3 linked regions of the Homo sapiens genome follow. The protein of the gene in region 2 interacts with the protein of the main gene of each other region in a pairwise test. Each region holds a gene or a part of one and is shown on either strand. Other genes may lie near its edges.

Region 1 (8,253 bases), on a different chromosome or scaffold from region 2:
CTGGCATGTATGTGTATGTGTGTGTGCCTATGGATGTGGATGAGCATTTCTATAATGATTTTCAGTTCCCACTACCACAATCCAAATGTCAAAACTTCTCCAAGGGGGCAAAGGGAGGGAATAAATTAATATGAATTTTAAATAAATCACAGAGCCTGATGGAACTGCTTCATGATGGGCATATAACTCAGAACCAAGTGCAATCAGTAAAGACCAGGAAAACCCAACATGGCCTTTCCTTCAACTAGGACTCATGGATGTCATGCTTACCAGCCAAAGTACAGTAGACTATGGTCTAATGCCAACACAAAGGCCATCCAGGGAATCTTGATGGTCCATCAAGCTGCCCCGGATGTCTGAGCCACAGGGCACTTTCCCCCTTTGCTTTGGAGAACATGAGCTTCATCTGAATGAGGTCCTATTTCTGGGCCTTAGGCTGCAGGAGTCCAAGAACGGATTATCTCAAGATACAGTGTTCCCGAAAGAGCATAGGCCCAGGGTGAGAAAACCCAGGTTCAAGTTCTGCCACCCACAGGCCCTCTCCCAGGCTCAGTTTCCCCATGAAGTTCTGTAACAAGTGGATTTTCAGGTCCCTTCTACCAGCTCCAAGTCTGTTTCTACAGATTAAACCCCAAGACAAAAGAGCTGACAGGAATCGAATCAATAAATGTGATTTGATAAATGTGTTCAGAACACAACAATGAATAACCTGCCCAAGATTCAGATTGAGAAACTGGAACTCAAACATAGAGCAGGTTTACAGAAATCCTCTGACTACCCTATGCCAAGGGTTCCCAAATCTGGCTGGAATGACCAGTGGCACTCATTAAAAATGTTTAAGCTTCTGGGCCCCTCTTGAGGTCCAGGGTAGAGCCTAGACATCTGTATTTTAAAATTCATTTATGTAATTTTAAATGGATGAATATCTTACATGGTTAAATAAGTGTGTGTGTGTGTGTGTGTGTGTGTGAGACAGAGTCTCACTCTGTCACCCAGGCTGGAGTGCAGTGGCGCAATCTCAGCTCACTGCAGCCTCCGCCTCCCAGATTCAAGTGATTCTCCTGCCTCAGCCTCCCGGGTAGCTGGAACTACAGGCGTGTGCCACTACACCCAGCTAATTTTTGTATTTTTTAAAGTAGACACAGGGTTTCACAATGTTGGCCAGGCTGGTCTGGAACTCCTGACCTCAAGTGTTCTGCCTGCCTTGGCCTCCCAAAGTGCTGGGATTACAGGCGTGAGCCACTGCACCCAGCCCATAGTTAAATAATTTTTTTAAAGATATAAAAAGATGTTCTGTTAAAAGTCTCCTTCCCACCTCTGTCTCCCAATTGCTCAGTTCCTACTCACTTATCTCCCTCAGGTAGCCAGTGTCATTGGGGCATGTGCCTGTGTGTGTGTCTGTGTGTGTGTGTCTTTGTGTGTGTCCTGAAATTCTTTTTATGCAAGCAAAAAAAAAACTCTACTCTCCTCCCCTTTTAAAAGACTACATGACAATAACATACTTTTTTCCACTGCATAGTATTCCATTACATGGAGGAAGCACCTGTCTCCTTTTAATGGGCATTTATTTGGTTCCAGGCTTATTGCAGATCCTGCTGCAGTGAGTATCTTTGCAGGCATGCCATTGCACACCTGCTGGAGTGTACCTGTTGCAGTGAGTATCTTTGCAGCCATGCCATTGCACACCTGCTGGAGTGTACCTGCTGCAGTATTGGTGGAGGCATGCCATTGCACACCTGCTGGAGTGCATCCTATAATACATTCCTCAAAGTAGCCTTCTGAGTCAAAGAGCACACACATTTATAACTTGAAAAAATGTTGACAAATTGCATCTTTTTTTTAACAGCTCCTATGTGATTTTAACACATTACTCAATCTGTGGGAGGGGAGACCATGCCCTGGACCAGTGCTGCTTAGTCAACATTTAACTTTTTAAACTGAAAATCACCTGGGGAGCTTGTTAAAATGCAGATTCTGATTCTGGAGTTCTAGGGTGGGCCCAAGAATCTGTATTTCTAGCAAACTCCCGGGTGATGCCAATACTGCTGGTCCATGGACCGCACTTTGAGTATCAAGACACTAGAGGACACATACTGAGCATAATTCCCAGGTGTCAGCTGCTATGCCATGAAGGCAATTAGACTTAGCATGCCCAGGACCTAAATTCCAGTCCCGGGACAGCAGTTCGCCAGCTGAGGGGCCTTGCTGGCCAAATCCCTACATTTTCTGAGCCTCAGTCGCCTCATCTGTAAAACAGGTGCAGTAAAGATAAGTATGTAAGGATTAAATAACATCGGTACATCTCAAAACCAATGTGCTGAGCAAAAGAAGCCAGACAATAGAGTACATCCCGTAAGATTCTATTTTTGTGGAACTGTAGAATAGGCAAAGTCAATCTATGGTGATAGAAATCAGAATGGGTGCCTCCGGTCTGGGGCAAAGGGGACTGACTGGGAAAGGGGAGGAGGGAACTTTCAGGGGTAGTGGAAATATCTCACTTGTTTTCGTGGTAACACGGGTATATACATTTGTCAAAACTCACTGAACTATGCACTTCAAATCTGTGCATTTTATAACATGTAAGTTATACCAAAATTTAAAAATAGATGAAAAGTAAATGATACAACTTCGTGTAAACTGTGACGTGCCATCAAAACAGAAGCCAGTCTTAGCTTAAGGAAATGTGCCACCTGCGTGCAGGGATGAGGTCATCGATCGACAGGGGACCAGAGACGGCGCTCCACCCCTGCATGGTAGCAGCGTGCTCCCAGCCCCGCGCCGCCGGGACGGCCCACGCCCTGCCTCGGTTTCCCCCGATGGCCGCCGCTTACTTGCTTCGGAACTCGTCGAGCGCGCGCTGCGCCTCGGTGCCCTGGCGCTCCAGCCGGGCGCGCTCGGCCTCCAGGTCCCGGACGCGCTGGCGGTTGCTCTCGACTTGGCGGGCGAGGGCGTCCTCGGGCCCGGCCAGCTCGCCCAGGCGCTGGAAGGCATCCAGCTGCCTCCGGAGCCCGGCATGGCGCTGCTCGAGGGCGCGGGCCCGCTGGACGTGGGCGGCCACGCGCTCGCCGAGCCCCTGCAGCGCCGCCAGGCTCGTTGCCCCAGCCCAGCCCTCGTCGGCCGGGCGCTCGGGCTCGGCGGCGCGCGAAGCCTCGTCGGCGTGCTCGTACTGCTCCTTGCGGGTCTGGAAGACGTAGCTGCGCCGGTACATGGCTGCTCTGGCGCGGGCGCGCGGGCGGCGCCGAGCCGGCTCTCCAGGAGGCCCCCGGCGCAGCCCGCAGCCCGCTAAATAAACACCGGAGGCCCCCGGCGCGCTGCTGGGACGTTCCAGAGCCGATCAGCAGTTGGGCGCCACGCTGGGCCCGGGCGCGGGAGAAGAAAAGAGCAGCGGCCCGCTTTGTGCGGCGGATTAGCGGCCCATACAGCTCCGGGGTTGGAAGGTTACGCTGGGCAATGAGGTTTTTGTTCCGTGATTGTTCAGGCCTGTTGCTTTTGATTGAATGGAGGGTCAGGGGACACGGGAGCCATGACGCTCTTTTCACTGGTTCCACTGGGGACTGTGAAGGAATCCCCAAGCGAACTCTTTAAACTTGGACTAGCTCAAGAGCCCAGGGCTTGTCACTTTGTCTCCTCTTGCATTCAAACTCAATTGTAGAACTCTTTAACAATGCCATTTTTTTTTTCTGATTACTTAAGCAATTCTTTTTTTTTTCTTTTGGTCTTTTTTATTTCCAATTGCTCGGTTATGCATGCAATTCTTTTTCATAATCATAACATGACGTTTAGGACCCTTCTGTATAGCAGAGGTTCTTAACCATGGATGCAAAATAAAATGGCATGTCTCCATTAAGTAGTGAGGTGTGGCGCAAGTAATTTCTTAGTAATACCCGTGCATAAAAGCCTACAATAACTTAGGAGACATGCACGGTTATGTTTTTATAATTCACCCATGCTCTGATGGAGTTTGACATGCTTTCTTGAATGGAAAAAACAAATAGAGCCCCACCCATGGGCCTGTAATAGGTGGTTCACGCCTGTAATCCTAGCACTTTGGGAGGCCGAGGCGGGCGGATCACCTGAGTTCGAGGCCAGCCTGGCCAACATGGTGAAACTCCGTCTCTACTAAAAATACCAAAATTAGCCAGGCGTGGTGGCGTGTGCCAGTAATCCCAGCTACCTGGGAGGCTGAGGCAGGAGAATCGCTGGAACCTGGGAGGCGGAGGCTGCAGTGAGCCGAGATCGCCCCACTGCACTCCAGCCTGGGTAACAGAGTGAGACTCCGTCTCAAAAAAAAAAAAAAAAAGAAAAAGAAAAAAAGATTGCTTTTTTCTTTTTCTTTTTTTAACATAAAATGTAATACAAAAAAATTTTAATAAAAAATGAGATGGGGTCTTGCTATGTTGCCCAGGCAGGACTCAAACTCCTGGGCTCAAGTGATCCGCCATTAATTGGCCAACCCTCAATTCGAGAATAATAAAGGATTTTGTGCCATTATGTTCCATTTTAATTTTTATTATGGAACTAATAGTTGGATTTTAAGGACAAGCTTTTAAAATATATATATATAATTAATAGCTAGACTTTGACAAATTTAAAAGTAAATTTAAGAAAAGAAATTAATACCACTTGATGAGAATGTTTCTGAATGTAAATATTTTGTCATATCTCCAACTTTAAAAATAAGTATCAAAAGGGTTGTTTTCTTAAAAGGATTAGTAGTACCATATAATTACTAACTATATGGATTGTGTGTGATTATACTACAAATTAAAGTCATAGTTATCAAAGATAGAGAAAGAAAATTACACAGATCTTTGTGGAGTTTATTATTACACCAAAATATTACCTCAAGATAATAGATTCCGTCTGGAATAAAGCTCTGCAAGGCCCTAAACTGTGCTGGTGGCATGGTTATTGTTCTATTTTCTTAAACCATTTAAAATTAGATTTGGCCAGGTGCAGTGGACCACACCTCTAATCCAGAACTTTGGGAGGCCAAAGTGGGAGGATCTCTTGAGGCCAGGAGTTCAAGACGAGCCTTGGCAACATAGTGAGACCCCCATTTCTTTTATTTATAAAAATAAAAATAATAAATAAAAATACATAAAATGTAATTGTATGGTCAAATTGAGGATAACCACATGAATATTTTTGTAGGTGCACATATACCATGCTGATAGCATGGTAAATTGACTTCAGGCTTCCTCACGAGAGCAAAACCAACATATAGCAAGAGTTATAAAATCATTTGTTCCCTATGATACCATGTATCAGTCAAATATTGCTACAGAACAAAATAGAAGTATTTATCACTGCATTCCCTGGGGCTGGGAGCTCAGCTGTCTTCCAGCTGTAGGTCTCCTTTCAGCAGGGGCTGCTCTGCTCCCAATGTCCCTCAAGCTTCTAAACTAGCAATGAAAAAAGCACAAGAGCAAGCCCAGCCACACAAGCTCATCCCAGGCCTTTGTTTGCATCATGTCTGCTGACATCTCATTGGTCAAAGCAAATCACATGGCCACAAATAAAGTCAAGAGGAAGCAAGGAGGAGGCAGGGCTCAGCCTGAGGCCCTGGCAAGGGTGTGGGTGGATAATCCCATCATGCTGGAGTGGAGAATCAGGACCCACAACTCAATCGACCACACATGGCAATACCATTTGAGAAAAATATATTCTAGAAACATAACAAAAAATTCTTTCAATTTAATCCAGTGAAATAAACACTCAGAAAATATCTCCTCACAAAGCGTAGCCTCAGAGTTAAATATTGCACAAAATCAAGTCTCTGCCCTCAGGGTGCAGGAGGCGAATCCATACTGACTAATGAAAACACAAGATAATCTGGACAACTTCTAAAATAAAGATCTTAGCAAAATGCTGTGGTTGTATTGTCTAACTTCAGGTGCACTGGGAAATGCAATCCTGCTATGTGCTTAGAAGGAGTGTGCAATATTTGTCAACAGCCCTAAAGACCATATCACTGATAGGAGACCATTCAGTAGGAGTAGAGATCGTATGCATAAGGAAGAAATCATTGCTGAATGAATTTGTTAATTCAAGAGACATGTTCGTAGAGATAGATTCCACAGGACTTGATGAAAGGTCAGCTATGGAAGAGTTACTCTAAATACAGTTGAATGGCACTAGTTTGGGGGCAGGGACAGGAAATGGATGTTTTAGAATAAGAAAGATCTGAGGTTAAGTTCTGGTCCCATCACTTCAGTAAGTGATTTAACCTATCTAGTCCCAGTATGGAGACTGGTAAAATGAGAATAATCACTTATGTAAGTAGGGTAACCACACATCCCAGTTTGCCTAAGACACATTTACACCCACTATCTCAGCGTAAATATAGCAAGCACCATCTTTCACTCTCAAGGGTATCTTGGTTTGTCTGAGAAATACACGTCTTTTATCTGGCCTGCATAACCTGAATATGTAGCCTATATCTGACCATAAGGAATCATCCAGATAAATCCCAAAGAAGGAACATCCTATTAATAAAAACAGAAGGGGGATGGTATTCTATAAAAATGTTAATATCATAAAAGACAAAGAGAAGCTATGAAAATGTTCCAGATTAAAGGAGACTGAAGAGACAGGACATCTAAATGCAGTATAGGGCCGAGTGTGGTGGCTCATGCCTGTAATCCTAGCACTTTGGAGGCTGAGGTGGGTGGATCATCTGAGGTCAGGAGTTCGAGACCAGCCTGGCCAACATGGTGAAACCCCATCTCTACTAATAATACAAAAAATTAGCCGGACGTCGTGGCTTGTGCCTGTAGTCCCAGCTACTCGGGAGGCTGAGACATGAGAATTCCTTGAATCCGGAGGGGTAGAGGTTGCAGTGAGCCAATATCACGCCACTGCACTCCAACCTAGGTGACAGAGTGAGACTCCATCTCAAAAATAAAAATAAATAAATAAATGCAATATGGATCCTAGACTGGATCTTGTATTGGAGGAGAAAAACTGCTATAAAGGTTATCACTAGGTTCATTAACAAAATTAGAATATAAATAGTAGATTAGAACATAAAATTGTATCAAGATTAAATTTACTGAAGTTTATGACTATGCTACAGCTATGTAAAATAATATCATTATTCTTAGAAAATACACTCTGAGGGCTCAGGCTGGGCACGGTGGCTCACGCCTGTAATCCCAGCACTTTGGGAGACCAAGGTGGGCGGATCATGAGGTCAGGAGTTCAAGACCATCCTAGCCAACATGGTGAAACCCCATCTGTACTAAAAATACAAAAAAATTAGCAAGGCATGGTGCTACACACCTGTAGTCCCAGCTACTTGGGAGGCTGAGGCAGGAGAATCACTTGAACCCAGGAGGCAGAGGTTGCAGTGAGTCGAGATAATGCCAATGCACTCCAGCCTGGCAACAGAGCGAGACTTCATCTCAAAAAAAGGAAAATATACTCTGAACTATCTAGGAGCAAAGACCCATGATGTATGCAACTTATTCTCAAATGATTCTGAATAAAATGACATGTATAAATATAAACATAAATAAGTATGAGAGATAGTAAGGAAATTAGACAAAATATTAAGAGGTGAATCTGGGTTGTTTGTACTATTCTTGCCATTTTTCCTAGAAAGTTTGAAATTATTTTCCAAAACACCTGCAAAAAGTGTGATCACCTTTGCAGTATAGACATTTAATAAATATTACTTGCTTTATGTTATAGCTATATATATGTATAATGGCTAAGAGAGGGAGAGGTGCAGAGAGGAGAATGGCTTAGCAAACTGCAGTAACAATAGGAGAAAATGGGCTATAACCATTGAACAATTTTACTTATTTATTTTATTTATGTATTTATTTTTTTAAAAAAACAGGGTCTTGCTATGTTACCCACACTGGTCTCGAACTCCCTGCCCTCAAGCAATCCTCCTGCCTCAGCCTCCCAAAGTGCTGGGATCACAGGTAAGAGTTAGCACACCTGGCCCCACCAAACAATTTTAACCTTGTGGAATATACTATGATATAAATAAAAATGCTTATAACAAACTTGAAGGGGAAAAGAAAAGCAAAATACCAGATGCATGGTAATTTTAGCAGTACAAAAATATCAGAAATTAGTGAAATATGCCAGGTTTAATGTTCATCATATCTTTTATTCCATTTAAAGTTGTTTAAGGCTGGGTGAAGTGGCTCATACCTACAATCCCAGCACTTTGGGAGGCCAAGGCGGGTGGACTGCTTGAGCCCGGAAGTTCAAGACCAGCCTGGGCAACATCGTGAA
Region 2 (7,321 bases):
TTTTTCTTTTCATAGCTTTTTATAATTCTTATGGTTCTCAAATCTGGCTGCATATTAGAATCATCCAGAGAGCTTTAAAAATCACAAAGTCCCTCTCCTCTGTCTGATTTGGTTGGTCTGGGATGGCGATTTTTGAAAATGCTCTGAAATAATTCTGCTGCGTAGCCAGGATCAAGAACCACTAAATAGTAATCAAGAGCTCAGAAACAGCCTTTTGCCTTAACTCAGACATCTACCTTATTTTCTCTACTTTTCCACATTTTCCTTCCTTGTCACTTTTCATCCTCTGTCTCAAGATTACAAAGTCAGAAATGGGTGGGAGATGGAGAAGGGAAGAACAAACCCTATGCATCCTATTTTCTGGTTAATTCCTGTATTATTTATGAGGTTTAATAAAAGTTGTTTTTCTTCCATGAATATAATGTATACTATTTAACAAAAACTTGAGAAATACTCAAAAACAAAAAAGAAAAAACATCTCAAAGTGTCAGACTGATCCATCACTCAAAGGCAACGACTGCTAATCCCATTTTAGTCTTTTCTTTCTAAAATTTTTTCTCAATGCCTAGTTTCTTTGTTTGAATGCTTTACCCTACTGTATATACCAGGAAGTGGCAAACTGCAGTCCACAGGCCAAATCCATCTCACCGCTTATTTTTGTAAATAAAGTTTTATTGGAACACAGCTATGCTCATTAGCTACCTATTGGCTACAGCTGCTTTTACACTGCAGTGGCAGCGCTGAGGAGTTACAACAGAGGCCATCTGGCCCAAGAAGCCTGAAATATTTACTGTTTGGTCCTTTACAGAGAATATTTTTTGGCTTCTGGCATATACCATTCTGTACTCTCATTTTCTCCTCATTTTACCTCATATTATGAACACATTCCTATTTTATAAATGCTTCATAAACATTAATTCTAATAACTGCCTGATATTTTACTGCACATAGGTAGGTTGTGGCTTAGATTTTCTTCTACTAGTAAATGTGTATGTTTTTTTCACTCTTATAATGCTTCAGTGAGTATATTTGGACACAGATGATTTATTTTTTCAAATATTCTTTTTTTTTTTTTTTTTTTGAGACAGAGTCTTGCTCTGTTGCCCAGGCTGGAGTGCAGTGGCCCAATCTTGGCTCACTACAAGCTCCGCCTCCCAGGTTCACACCATTCTCCTGCCTCAGCCTCCCGAGTAGCGGGGACTACAGGCACCTGCCAATGCGTCCGGCTAATTTTTTGTATTTTTAGTAGAGACAGTGTTTCACCCTGTTAGCCAGGATGGTATCGATCTCCTGACCTCATGATCCGCCCGCCTTGGCCTCCCAAAGTGCTGGGATTACAGGCGTGAGCTACCACGCCCGGCCTCAATTATTCTTTCAGGATTGTATTCAGATTATTCAGTTGGTAGCTAGGGGCATTTTAACACTCTTGGTGCATATTACTAAATTTCTTATTCAAAGGCAGTGCACTAGTTTATGCTCTTCAGTAATACAGTAGAGAACCTACTTCTCCACATACTTGCCAGCATTTTTACCATTTTAAACATTTTCTACTTTTAGATAGGTAAACAAAAAGCTATTATTTTAATTTTCATTTCTTCTGTTTCTAATGAGGTTGAACTTGTTACTAAACCGTTGTTATTTCTTCGTCTGCACATTGACTAGTTTGCAGCTCAGCGTGGCCTCCTTCTGCATAGGGCAGAGTGGAGGATGCTGGTCCTGCCTCTCACCTTAGCTTGGAGCAGGGCTCCTGCCTCCACCCGGTTCTTTTCAACATCTCTCTCCCACTGAATTCTGATCGTCTCAAGGATGTCGTCCAGACCAGTGCCAATGGGAGCATCCATTTGTTCCAGCTCACACCCTGCCAACTGTTTGTGCAGCAGCTTCACATCCTGAAAACAACAATATACATCTTAGATGAGTTACGGGGGGAAATAAATGGCATAGAATTCTAGCCAGCAGAAAACCAGCTCTGTGGGCAATTCTTTTCTCATTCCACAACTGCCAGACACAGGCTTCACAGAGACTGGGAAAGTCCCTGACCTTCTTCCCAGCGTAAGTGTAATTTCTCTTTTCCCAAGGATGCATTTCTCCCTCTCTCCCTCCCTTCCTTCCTTCCTTCCTTTCCTTCTCTCTCTTTCTTTCTTCCTCCCTCCTTCCCTCCCCCTCCCTCCCTCCTTCCTTCCTTCCTTCCTTCCTTCCTTCCTTCCTTTCCTTCTTTCCTTCTTTCTCTTTCTCTCTCTCTTTCTCTCTTTCTTTCCGTCTGTCTTCCTCTCTCTCTCTCCTTCCTTCCTTCCTTCTTTTTTTTGACAGGGTCTCACTCTGTCACCCAGGCTGGAGTGCAGTGACATGATCTCAGCTCATTGCAGCCTCCATCTCTTGGGCTCAAACAGTCCTCCCACCTCAGTCTCCTGAGTAGCTGAGACTACAGGCACAGGCACGGCACACACCACCATGCCCAGCTAATTTTTGTATTTTTAGTGGAGACAGGGTTTCACCATGTTGCCCAGGCTGGTCTTGAACTCCTGGGCTCAAGTGATCCCCTGCCTTGGCCTCTCAAAGTGCTGGGATTACAGGCTTGAACCACCATGCCTAGCACCAAGGATGCATTTCTTAGGTTGGTCTCCACAAGCCCAGGCCCAAAGCAGAAATCAAAATAAAACAAACAAACAAACAAACAAACAAACAAACAAAAAACCACATGTATACATATGTAACTAACCTGCACATTGTGCACATGTACCCTAAAACTTAAAGTAAAATAAAACAAAAACAAAAACAAAAACAAAGTAAGCAACAACAGCACAGGGCATTTATGCATAAAGCCAGACAAGGATGAAAGAGACTTAAAAGATAACTTTGGCATCTCTAAATGGTTACTGTTGGAGAGTAGTCTTAAATCACTGAGCTAAGAACAAGAAGAAATGGGCTTACAGTTGCTGGTTAGCTTAAGTTGGTCTCAAGAAAGAACTTCCCAATGTGAGCATCGTTAAGTGGGTTTTGACTCTTTCAACTTGAAGCAGCCTAAATCTTGGATCAGACAGTAATATGTGTGAGGTGGTTTAGAATTGCTGAAGTCTCGCAGGGAACTAGACCCCATAACTGTTGGAGGTCCTCTTCAGTTCTGTCACTCAATAATCTGACCCAGTTTTGTTAATGAGTAGATGTCAACCACAGCTTGGATCTACCCTCAGAGTTGTTTTGTTTGTATAATACAGTGTTGAAAAAAAAACCTGACATAGAATGCATTGAGGAGGGGTTGCTCCCTCTAATTTAACACAAGTTCCCTCATTTGCTAGTGCCAAGACTGGCTGCCTTCCCCTGTTTCTGTACCACACTGGTTCCTGAAGCTATTTGAGTTTGAGACTGCTGGGGTAACCTGACCCACTTCAAGGATCTGAAAGTATTTTACAGGTATGTTCCCTGCAGTCCTGGGCACGCAATGTGGAGAGTCAGAAATGAGCTACTGTGGCCTTGTTATGAAGCACAGGCAGACAGATGTGAACTTCTGGTCTTGTGGCCAACCCAGCAACCCCAGCCCCCTCCTACCTCTTCATAGTTTCTTGATAGAGAGCCAAGTTCTTCTTTCAGACTTTCTATTTGACTCTCCAGGTCCATTTTAGTCAAATTAGCCTCATCAATGACTTTATACAGAGAGTTAATTTCCTCTTCTGCCGCCTTTCGAAATGGCTGCTCATTTTCATATCTGCAGATAAAGGAACTTAATTAGCATAACTGAGTAGCCCAAAAGAAAAAGAATCAGATTATAAATGTTACCAACAGGCCAATTATGTGATAGTTAGACAATGAATGGTAAAAGTCACTGTTTCAATAGATTTGAGGGCACTGTTAGTGCAGTTGTCACACATTGATTTATTAAAATGAAGGCAATTGCAGCCAACTTCTGATAACCTGGCTTCCCGGGCTACCAGCCTCATGGGAGTGTTGCAACACAGAACTCCAGGGAAAACTCAGGAGTTCAGATCCAGGTTAGGGGATCCGGCATCTTCATCGCTATCCTGATTGTCCTCCTTTTCAACCAAGGATCCTTTAACAAACATTACTGACAACCTGCTAAGCACCAGGGTGGGGACCCCAAAATAAGAAATGTGGTTTCTGTCTCCAAAGCACCCATGTTAAAAGTGTCCATCTCCAGGAGAGTGGCTGCAAACCCAGATGCCTTCAGGGACTGAGTGGGAGGTGTAGCTGAGCACGGTTCTCAAGCCTGGATGCACATTAAGTCACCTGGTGAGCTCTAAAACTGCTGAAGCCTGGACCCAACCCCTGGGGACTCTGATTTAATTAGTCTATGGCTTGTGCACTGCACTGACATTTTTAAGTGCCCAGGTAATTCTGATATGCCCAGGTTGGAGAATCATTACTGTAAGCTAGTAGTTCTCAAAGTATTTGAGTCCCAGGACCAGCAGGATCAGCATCCCTGGGAACTTGTTAGGAATATAAATTTGGGGCCCTTCTCCAGACCCATTGAGTCAGAAATTCAACAGGGTGGGGCGCAGCAATCTCTGTTTTCTATATGGCCCCTGGGTGATTCTGAGCATTCCAGAGTTTGAGAACCCTGCTCTAAACCAACTGACAGTGGGCAAAATCTTTGAGCCCTTGGGGCCTACTTTATGTTTACAAGGAGGGGTGTGAGCTGGATAATCATGGCTCTGTTATCCTGCCAGCTTCCCCTGAGGTAGAAGGTGGATGATGCAGGCTCCAGAACAGCATTATCCACACTTGCCTAGGAGTCTAGGGATGTGGAGGGACTGTCGCCTCTGCTGTAAGACATTACCTCTCTTTAAAGTCATCTGCTCCGGCCTGGATAGTTTCTGTCTGCAGCATGAGCCGGGCATTTTCCAAGACTGCCTCACCCACCTAGAGCGATCACACACACCAAAGGAGACAAGGTCACTGGGAGCGTCAAGATCACTTACCACCATGACTTGTGTTAGGCACAGAGGCTCTGGGGGACCTCAGAGAACCTTTCTTACAGCAAATATTTGTGGAATTAAGATGTCCCTCTCTTTGGACAATGGTCAGGGTGGGGGGATATAAATAATAAGGCATAAAATCTGGATATCTTCTAAGAGTTTTTAGAGTGGGATTTTTGGCACAAAAAGACTATTCAAAGGCAGACTTGTTCATAGCCTCTGTCACAGTGACAAGCTTTCATCTCTCCAGGGCAGAGTCCGGCTCCTTAGATGAAGTTTCACTGGCTTTGCCTAGCAGCTCTTAAAATTTCTGGTCATGGATGCCTTTGGAAGGCTGGTGAAAGCTCTAGATGAGTGCTGAGAGAGCTTCCTGTGACGGTGGAAATGCTCTGTCTGCACTGTCCAGCATGGTGGCCACCCGTGGCTACCGTATTGGGCAGCGTGGCTCTAGAGTTTCGTCTCCCCCAAAACATACACGTGAACATAAACATTGTGGATATAGTTTAGGGGTTTCATGGAGCCTTGAGGAGTGGTTTTTCAAACTTGAATCCCCAAGCCTCTCAGGATCTCCCACAGGTAGGGAATGAGGGGTGTCCTCCCTTCAACCCAAGAAACTCCTTTATATATATATATATATATATATATATATATATATATATATATATATATATATATATATATATATATATAAATGGTGAGCTGAAGGCTCTGATAGGGGGAGCCTGCAGGGTGGAGCCAAATCCCAGCTATGGGAGAAGAAAATAACTGCTTTCCCCTTGCTCCAGTGTGGCTGTCTTATTTTGTTTCATTTCATTGAATTACTTTTTTTGTTTTTTCTTTGAGACAGAGTCTTGCTTTGTTGCCCAGGCTGGAGTGCAGTGGCACAATATCTGCTCACTGCAACCTCTGCCTCCCAGATTCAAGATATTCTCGTGCCTCAGCCTCCTGAGTAGCTGGGATTACAGGCATGTGCCACTGCGCCCAGCTAATTTTTGTATTTTTAATAGAGATGGGGTTTCACCATGTTGGCCAGGCTGGTCTCGAACTCCTGACCTCAAATTATCCACCCATCTTGGCCTCCCAGAGTCCTGGGGTTACAGGTGTAAGCCACCAAACCCTGCCATTTTCATTGAATTCCCCACTAGCAAAGCTAATCATTTCTGTTCCAGCTTGGCCTGGGGCACACTGGGGAGCAGGCAGACTAGGGTGTCTCCCTTTCCCAGTTCTTAATCACTCCTGTCTCTCACCTCTGGTGCCTGGAGTTCTCCTTCTGGTTGATAAAGAACTTGCAACTCATTCACATTTAAGTATCAAAGGACTAATATTGGCTTAAAATAGTGATTTATATCCTTCTTTTAAGGTAACAATTCCTACCCTCCAAAATTAAAGCTTATAGAAAACCTATGTACAGTTGTCCTTTGGTATCTATGGGGTCTTGGTTCCAGTCCCCCACGGATGCTCAAGTCTCTTATATAAAATGATGTAGTATTTGCATATAACCTACACACACATCCTTCCATATACTTTAAATCATCTCAAGATTACTTATGATACCCAATACAATGGAAATGCTATGTACATAGTTGTTATTTATTGTGTTATTTAGAAAATAATGACAAGAAAAAAGCCCACATGTTCAGTATAAACGCAATCATCTATTTTTTAAAAAATATTTTGATCTACAGTTGGTTGAATCCATGGATGTGGAACCCATGGATGTGAAGGACTGACTGTACTTTGCACTAGTGGTTCTCAAAGTGTGGGCCCTGGACCAGTGGCAGCAGCATCACCTGGGAACTTGTGAGAAATGCACTTTTCAGCTCCTGTTTCAGATGGACCTATCAGAATCTCTGCAGGTGGGTCCCAACAATTTGTGTCTCAGCAAGCTTTCCAGGGGCTTATGATGCATACTCAACCTTGAGAACCCCGGTTTCACATGGCCCTGCCCCCAGGCCTGCTCTAGCTGCCTCCCTGCTGCACCTGGAATCCCTCTGTGCCTTTGCACCTGCTGCCTCCATTGAGAGCAACTTGTTTCACTACCTCCCCACTCCCAGCCCTCAGTCTGAGAAAGCCTGCTCCAGTATAATGCTCATTTCAAACACGGCTTCCCCATGAAACTTTTCTATTTATTCACTCATTCATTCTTGCCTTAATTTCTTCAGCACATAATTACTGTTTATGCCAGGCTCTGTCCTGTTTGTTGAGAAACCAGCCGCTACTGTAGGAGATGAGGTTAAAAAGGTAGACAAGACCAGACCATAGAGGGAAGGCCTTGGGCACAATGGAAAGGAGTTGAGATTTACTGGGAAGCCTTTGAAAGGGCTTGAGCAGGTTACAGAGGTGATCTGTGCACTAAGTGGACCCTCTGACTACTGTGGGAAGAGAGGATT
Region 3 (7,982 bases), on a different chromosome or scaffold from region 2:
GGGGTTTCACCATGTTGGCCAGGCAGGTCTTGAACTCCTGATCTCAGGTGATCTGCCTGCCTTGGCCTCCCAAAGTGTTGGGATTACAGGCCTGAGCCACCATGCCCGGCCAACTTGTAGTTTCTATAGACATGTTAAACTTAACGTCAACATGGGGTTGAGTTGGGTGGAGGAAGATTGCAAAGATACACACCAACGTGTAAATAACAGTAGGATGAGGGTCTTGTGTGTGTATTTGTGTGTTTCTATATACTATTACATAAAACTTCTATAATGAGCATTAACATTTTGAAAAACTTTTTATTTTGAAATAATTATAGATTCACAGAAAGTTGCAAAGATGGTACAGAGAGTCCCCATGTACCTGTCAACAGTTTTCCCCAGTGGTTATATCTCACTTAAAGAGTACAATATCAAAACCAGGAAATAAACATTAGTGTGGTGTGTGTGTGTGTGTGTGTGTGTGTGTGTGTAGTTACAAGTCATTTTATTGTGTGTTTATTCCTGTAACCACCACTGCAATCAAGATACAGAACTATTCCATCACCACAAGGATCTCCCTGGTGATACCTCTTTGTAGTCACGCGTATATCCCTATCCCCATGATCCTTGACCCTGCAACTATGAATCTGTTCTCCATGTTATGTAAATGGAATCATACAGTACATGGCTGCTTGATGATACATTTTTTTCATTTAGCATAATGCCCTTGAGATGTATCTAATTTATTGTGTGTATCAATAGTTCATTCCTTTTTACTGCTGAGTCATATTCCATGGTACATGTACCATGGTTTGCTTAATGCATCACCCATTGAAGAACATTTGGATGGTTTCCAGGTTTTGAATATTATGAAGAAAACTGCTATTTTATTTCTGTACAGGTTTTTATGTGAACATATGTTTTCATTTCTCTGGGTTAAATGCCAAGGAGTGCAATTGCTGGGTTGTATGGTAAGCATACACAGTTAGACAGAAGGAATAAGTTACAGTGTTCAATAGCACAGCAGGATGACCATAGTTATCAATAATTTATTGTATATTTCAAAATGATTAGAAGATTTGGAATGTTCTCAACACAAAGACATGATAAATGCTTGAGGTAATGGATATCCCAATTACTCTGACTTGATTATCGAACATTGTATGAATGTATCAAAACCCCACAAATATGTACAACTATTATGTATCAGTAAAAAAAGGAATCTGACAAACTGTTTTACAGAGTGGCCATAACATTTATATTTTCACCATTAATGTATGCGTGTACCCAGTTTCTCTGCCTCCTTGCCGGCAGTTGGTATTTGCGCTATTTATTCTTTTAGCCATTCTGATGGATGTGCAGTGACATCTTGTCACTCCAGATCTCTGAAGTTCTGTCTGCAATTCTGTCCTCTCTGGTACTGTGCTCTGTGAACTCCAGTTGCCTTGGCTTCCTTGGACCCCCAGTTTTATCTCCTCAGCTCAGGAAGACTGGCGGACTCTGCCTGGGTCTCCCTCTCTGTGCCACAGCCTGAAAACTCTTTCTAGGAAATAAGCTGGGAGAATTGTAGGGTTCAGTTTTAACATCAATCTTTTCTACCCCTATCTCTTTACACCTATCTATCTGTCTGTCTATCTATCTACCTATCATTTATCCACCATCTATTTATTTATCATAAATTTTTCTTAACTACAAGCCAAGGGTTTTAGTATCAGAACTGCTATTAGTTATCTGTAGCATTTGGGACATTAACTTACTTGAGCCACTTCTTTGTTGGTGAAATGAGGGTCATCTTATATCAGCCTTCTCATAATTCCTTCTGAGAGATTCCAGGATACTGGTTGACTCTTCTAGAAGATACAGTGAGCAGTGTTGGTAGCTACGGTCCTTAGTATGTGCTATTTCTAAACAGGAAAATGATATTGATTGGGTGGGTAATGAGCATGTGTTGGTAATTGCTATGTAAGAGCAATAACAACAACAACTAATACATTTAGCCTTTTACATGCAGTGTCTTATATAATATTTACAACAGCCCTGTAAAGTAAGTGCTACTATTATCCAAATTTATTCATTTTTTATTTAAAAAATTTTTTTAGTATTATAAACCACTTTATGTCCAAGAACGATTCAAATTTAGAAGACGAGAAAACTGTAGCCTAGAAAAAGAAATAAAAATGAAAATTAAAAACCTGTCCAGTCTAAAGGTTATACTTACACAGACTTAGGTTCTTTCTTTGTATTTAATTAAAGGTTAATTTCAAATGATCTCTAGTAGTAACAAAACTCTTTAGTTATAAAGAAGCAGGTGATGCATGGTTGTTGAATACATTACCCCTGCTGACCTTAGACTGCTGCTGGGCTCAGCAGATAATTCTTGATTTTCTCTTCACATTGCAAATAGACCTCACCAGAATAAATGGGCAGAATAGACACCAAAGAGGGATAGCGCAAGCAAATGTGAGGGTGAAATGCAGTCAGTGCCTTGCAAAAGGAAGTGCTCAATACTGGTAGTCGGTGTCATTGCTCTTACTGCAAATTATAAACACCAGCACTGCAAAAGTCAGCCCAGTAGACTTTGTAAATCACAGAAGTGGCTCCTAGACCACCATTTGAAAAATTCTGCCTGAAGGACTAAGGAAAACATCTTCTTTTATTTTTATTTTATTTTTTTATACCACAGTTTAGGAAAACATCTTCTTAAAAGATCGTGTTTATGTCTACAGATGATTTTTATAGTGCCTTAACAGTCTCCAGAGTGGTTTTAAAAATATTATCTCAGAATGTCAATTTCAGCTAAAGAAGTGAACCTTAGGATCAACATTGTAACCCTCCTGGTTTTATTCACCCAGAGTATAGGGACTGATAATGATAATGCTGCTTTGGATAGTCTCCTATCTAGGGCTAAATGATCAGATTTGCAAAATCCAGATATTCTTATGGGAATGTGGTTATTGGCTAGGGGAATGGAAAGAGGGAGTAGAGAGTGGAAAACTGGATAAAGTTATAGGTAAAGATATGTGAAAACTCATGATTGTCTCAAATACTCTAAATCTTGTCATAATACACTTGTAAAGTAATAATCATGTTGGAGAGATGGCCAAATAAAGGCCAAAGATCTTGACACTGCAGAAATTATAGGAGAGGATTAAAGGAAGTACATGTGGCAGATATAAGAAAAGACTAAACTTGAGATTCATGCACAAGGTCAGGCTGCATAAACCACAGGATAGCGGGTGTAACTCAGGAGCAGAACAATTGATCCATGAAACAAAACTGTCTGCAGTTTCCCAGGCTGGAGAGATTTCCCGTCTTGGATGTCTGGATCTGTCTCAGTGCCCAGATAGCCTCACTTCAAAGTGTTTGTGGGAACAGAAAGAATTGGCTGAGTGTGTTTGTTCAGTGCTAGGCGGAGGAAGTGAAACGGGGAGTGGGTTTAGGAAGTAAGTGTGTGTTTAAGAGCACGTGGACCACCAGAAGATAACCATTTTTCTTCAGACTAGCAGCCAGGGCACTGCTCACGAAGAAGGAAACCCTGGGAGGGAAGAACTTGGGGAACGAGAGGACACAAGAATCTCTGCAGCTGCTTATGCATGTACGTAAGTCACAGAGGTGTTGGGTGCCTCAAGGAACAACATGGAAGTCCTCTCTCTTTTTTAAAATAAATAATTTTTTAATAAATTTTCGAGCACTTTGGGAGGCCGAGGCGGGCGGGTCACGAGGTCGGGAGATCGAGACCATTCTGGCTAACACGGTGAAACCCCGTCTCTACTAAAAAATACAAAAAATTAGCCGGGCGCGGTGGCGGGCGCCTGTAGTCCCAGCTACTTGGGAGGCTGAGGCAGGAGAATGGCGTGAACCTGGGAGGCGGAGCTTGCAGTGAGCCGAGATCGCGCCACCGCACTCCAGCCTGGGCGACAGAGAGAGACTCCGTCTCAAAAAAAAAAAAAAAAAAAGGAATCTGTCATTACAACCTTCTCTCACAAAGAACTCCAGGCGCAGACAGCATCACCACAGCATTCTACCAACCATTTACAGGGAAAGTAATGCACGTCCACAAAACTCTTCCAGAAAGACAAGGGAGCACTCACCAGCTCCTGAGGCCAACGTAGCCTCAGTCCCTAACCCAGCAAGGACAGCAGCGGAGAGGAGCTCACAGGCCAGCCCCCGCCACACGTACACACCACTGCGAGGCTCCAAAGCTCAAGCAGCGTGTATCCAGCGAATACAACAAGAATAATGAAAAAGCGTTATCTGATCAATTGCTAGAGGAGCAGAAGTAACTCTGGCAAACCTCACTGAATGTGAATCCTGAAAGTGCCTTGATCTGCGGTTCTACAAGTTATGGTGCTGGAGGTCTCAGCCAATGCTGTAGGGTAGGACAAAGAAAGAGCTCCAGTGCCAGACAAGAAAAAGTAAAACTCTGATTGATTCACCCATGAAACAGTGTCTGTGTTTAGAAACCCCAAAAGAATATATAGACAAATCATAAGGATGAAAAAGTGAGTTTGCTCCCTCTCCCTCTCCCTCTCCCTCTCCCTCTCCCTCTCCCTCTCCCTCTCCCTCTCCCTCTCCCTCCACGGTCTCCTTCCACGGTCTCCCTCTGATGCCGAGCCAAAGCTGGACGGTACTGCTGCCATCTCGGCTCACTGCAACCTCCCTGCCTGATTCTCCTGCCTCAGCCTGCCGAGGGCCTGCGATTGCAGGCGCGCGCCACCACGCCTGACTGGTTTTCGTACTTTTTTGGTGGAGACGGGGTTTCACTGTGTTGGCCGGGCTGGTCTCCAGCTCCTAACCGCGAGTGATCCGCCAGCCTTGGCCTCCCAAGGTGCCGGGATTGCAGACGGAGTCTGGTTCACTCAGTGCTCAATGGTGCCCAGGCTGGAGTGCAGTGGCGTGATCTCAGCTCGCTACAACCTCCATCTCCCAGCCGCCTGCCTTGGCCTCCCAAAGTGCCGAGATTGCAGCCTCTGCCTGGCCGCCACCCCGTCTGGGAAGTGAGGAGCGTCTCTGCCTGGCCGCCCATCGTCTGGGATACGAGGAGCCTCTCTGCCTGGCTGCCCAGTCTGGAAAGTGAGGAGCGTCTCTGCCCGGCCGCCATCCCATCTAGGAAGCGAGGAGCGCCTCTTCCCCGCCGCCATCCCATCTAGGAAGTGAGGAGCGTCTCTGCCCGGCCGCCCATCGTCTGAGATGTGGGGAGCACCTCTGCCCCGCCGCCCTGTCTGGGATGTGAGGAGCGCCTCTGCTGGGCCGCAACCCTGTCTGGGAGGTGAGGAGCGTCTCTGCCCGGCCGCCCCGTCTGAGAAGTGAGGAAACCCTCTGCCTGGCAACCGCCCCGTCTGAGAAGTGAGGAGCCCCTCCGTCCGGCAGCCACCCCGTCTGGGAAGTGAGGAGCGTCTCCGCCCGGCAGCCACCCCGTCCGGGAGGGAGGTGGGGGGGGGTCAGCCCCCCGCCCGGCCAGCCGCCCCGTCCGGGAGGTGAGGGGCTCCTCTGCCCGGCCGCCCCTACTGGGAAGTGAGGAGCCCATCTGCCCGGCCAGCCGCCCCGTCCGGGAGGGAGGTGGGGGGGGTCAGCCCCCCGCCCGGCCAGCCGCCCAGTCCGGGAGGTGAGGGGCGCCTCTGCCCGGCCGCCCCTACTGGGAAGTGAGGAGCCCCTCTGCCCGGCCAGCCGTCCCGTCCGGGAGGGGGGAGGGGGGGTCAGCCCCCTGCCCGGCCAGCCGCCCCGTCCGGGAGGGAGGTGGTGGGGGTCAGCCCCCCGCCCGGCCAGCCGCCCTATCCAGGAGGTGAGGGGCGCCTCTGCCCGGCCGCCCCTACTGGGAAGTGAGGAGCCCCTCTGCCCGGCCAGCCGCCCAGTCCGGGAGGGAGGTGGGGGGATCAGCCCCCCGCCTGGCCAGCCGCCCAGTCCAGGAGGGAGGTGGGGGGTCAGCCCCCCGCCCGGCCAGCCGCCCCGTCCGGGAGGGAGGTGGGGGGGTCAGCCCCCCGCCCGGCCAGCCGCCCCGTCCGGGAGGGAGGTGGGGGGGGTCAGCCCCCCGCCCGGCCAGCCGCCCCGTCCGGGAGGGAGGTGGGGGGATCAGCCCCCCGCCTGGCCAGCCGCCCCGTCCGGGAGGTGAGGGGCGCCTCTGCCCGGCCGCCCCTACTGGGAAGTGAGGAGCCCCTCTGCCTGGCCAGCCGCCCCGTCCGGGAGGGGGGAGGGGGGGTCAGCCCCCCGCCCGGCCAGCCGCCCCGTCCGGGAGGGAGGTGGTGGGGGTCAGCCCCCCGCCCGGCCAGCCGCCCTGTCCGGGAGGTGAGGGGCGCCTCTGCCCGGCCGCCCCTACTGGGAAGTGAGGAGCCCCTCTGCCCGGCCAGGACCCCGTCTGGGAGGTGTGCCCAGCGGCTCATTGGGGATGGGCCATGATGACAATGGCGGTTTTGTGGAATAGAAAGGCGGGAAGGGTGGGGAAAAAATTGAGAAATCGGATGGTTGCCGGGTCTGTGTGGATAGAAGTAGACATGGGAGACTTTTCATTTTGTTCTGTACTAAGAAAAATTCTTCTGCCTTGGGATCCTGTTGATCTGTGACCTTATCCCCAACCCTGTGCTCTCTGAAACATGTGCTGTGTCCACTCAGGGTTAAATGGATTAAGGGCGGTGCAAGATGTGCTTTGTTAAACAGATGCTTGAAGGCAGCATGCTCGTTAAGAGTCATCACCACTCCCTAATCTTAAGTACCCAGGGACACAAACACTGCGGAAGGCTGCAGGGTCCTCTGCCTAGGAAAACCAGAGACCTTTGTTCACTTGTTTATCTGCTGACCTTCCCTCCACTATTGTCCTATGACCCTGCCAAATCCCCCTCTGCGAGAAACACCCAAGAATGATCAATTAAAAAAATAAATAAATAAATAAATAAAATTTTCAACTTTACAAACAAATGTGATAATAATTCATGGAACTCATGAATATTCTTTATCCAGGTACATTATTTTTTTAAACTTCCCTTATTTATTTATTTATTTATTTATTTATTTATTTATTTAGAGATAGATTCTCACTCCGGTTGCCCAGGCTGGGGTGTAGCAGTTGGATCATGGCTCACTGCAGCCTCAACTTCCTGGGCTCCAACCATCCTCCCACCTCAGCCTGCCTGGTAGCTGGAACTGAAGACACACGCCACCAAGCCAGGCTAATTTTTTCATATTTTTTGTAGAGATGGGGTTTCACCATGTTGCCCAGGCTGGTCTCAAACTCCGGGACTCAAGTGATCCACCTGCCTCGGTCTCCCAAAGCACTGGAATTGCAGGCATGAGCCACTGCGCCCAGGCCCCCTATTTATTTTTTATCATTTTCTCTCTCTCTCTGTAAACACACACATGTATACATATCCATATATCTATATTCCGAAGCATTTGAGAGTATATTGCATATGTTGTGCTCTTTTCCTGCTTAATATTTCAGTGTGCATCTCCTAAGAAGAAGGATATTTTCTTAAACAATCAGGGTACAGTTTTACATTCAGTATATCAAATACATATATACAGTGATTCTCCCTACCCAAAGTTTCAGTTACCCATGGTCAACGACGGTCTGAAACTATTAAATGGCAAATTCCAGAAATAAACAATTCATAATTTAATGTTGCATGCTGTTCTGAGTAATGTGATGAAATCTCTCACCGTCTCACTCCATCCTGCCTGGGATGTGAACCATCCCTTTGTCCAGCGTGTCCATGTTGTAGACACCACCCACCCATTAGCTACTTAGTGGCCAATATCAGATGCACCGTCACAGTATCTCAGCGCCTGTGTTCACATAACCCTTATTTTACCTAGTAATAGCCGCAAAGTGCAAGAATGATGATGCTGGCAATTCAGACACGTCAAAAAGAACCCGTAAAGTGCTCCGTTTGAGTGAAAAGGTGAAAGTGTCTCAACTTAATAAGGAAAGGGGGGAAAAACATGCTGCAATTGGTAAAATCTACAGTAAGAAAGAATCTTTTATCTGCAAATTTTGAACAGTATATTGT

The links.
Region 1: the proteins of BFSP2 (region 2) and BFSP1 interact in binary tests that used the Homo sapiens proteins (3 or more experiments, as listed by UniProt).
Region 3: the proteins of BFSP2 (region 2) and RNASE10 interact in binary tests that used the Homo sapiens proteins (3 or more experiments, as listed by UniProt).

Annotation. Positions count from the first base shown.
Region 1 is NC_000020.11:17,528,122-17,536,374, forward strand, and holds the start of BFSP1 (filensin), read right to left. Parts: upstream 3,259-8,253; 5' UTR 3,209-3,258; coding exon 2,832-3,208; intron 1-2,831. UniProt on the Homo sapiens protein: Required for the correct formation of lens intermediate filaments as part of a complex composed of BFSP1, BFSP2 and CRYAA. Involved in altering the calcium regulation of MIP water permeability.
Region 2 is NC_000003.12:133,444,871-133,452,191, reverse strand, and holds part of BFSP2 (phakinin), read right to left. Parts: intron 6,788-7,321; exon of another isoform or gene 6,617-6,787; intron 4,876-6,616; coding exon 4,793-4,875; intron 3,704-4,792; coding exon 3,547-3,703; intron 3,412-3,546; exon of another isoform or gene 3,297-3,411; intron 1,890-3,296; coding exon 1,728-1,889; intron 1-1,727.
Region 3 is NC_000014.9:20,500,769-20,508,750, forward strand, and holds the start of RNASE10 (inactive ribonuclease-like protein 10 precursor), read left to right. Parts: upstream 1-4,768; 5' UTR 4,769-5,251; intron 5,252-7,982. UniProt on the Homo sapiens protein: Secreted proximal epididymal protein required for post-testicular sperm maturation and male fertility. May be involved in sperm adhesion to the egg zona pellucida. Does not have ribonuclease activity.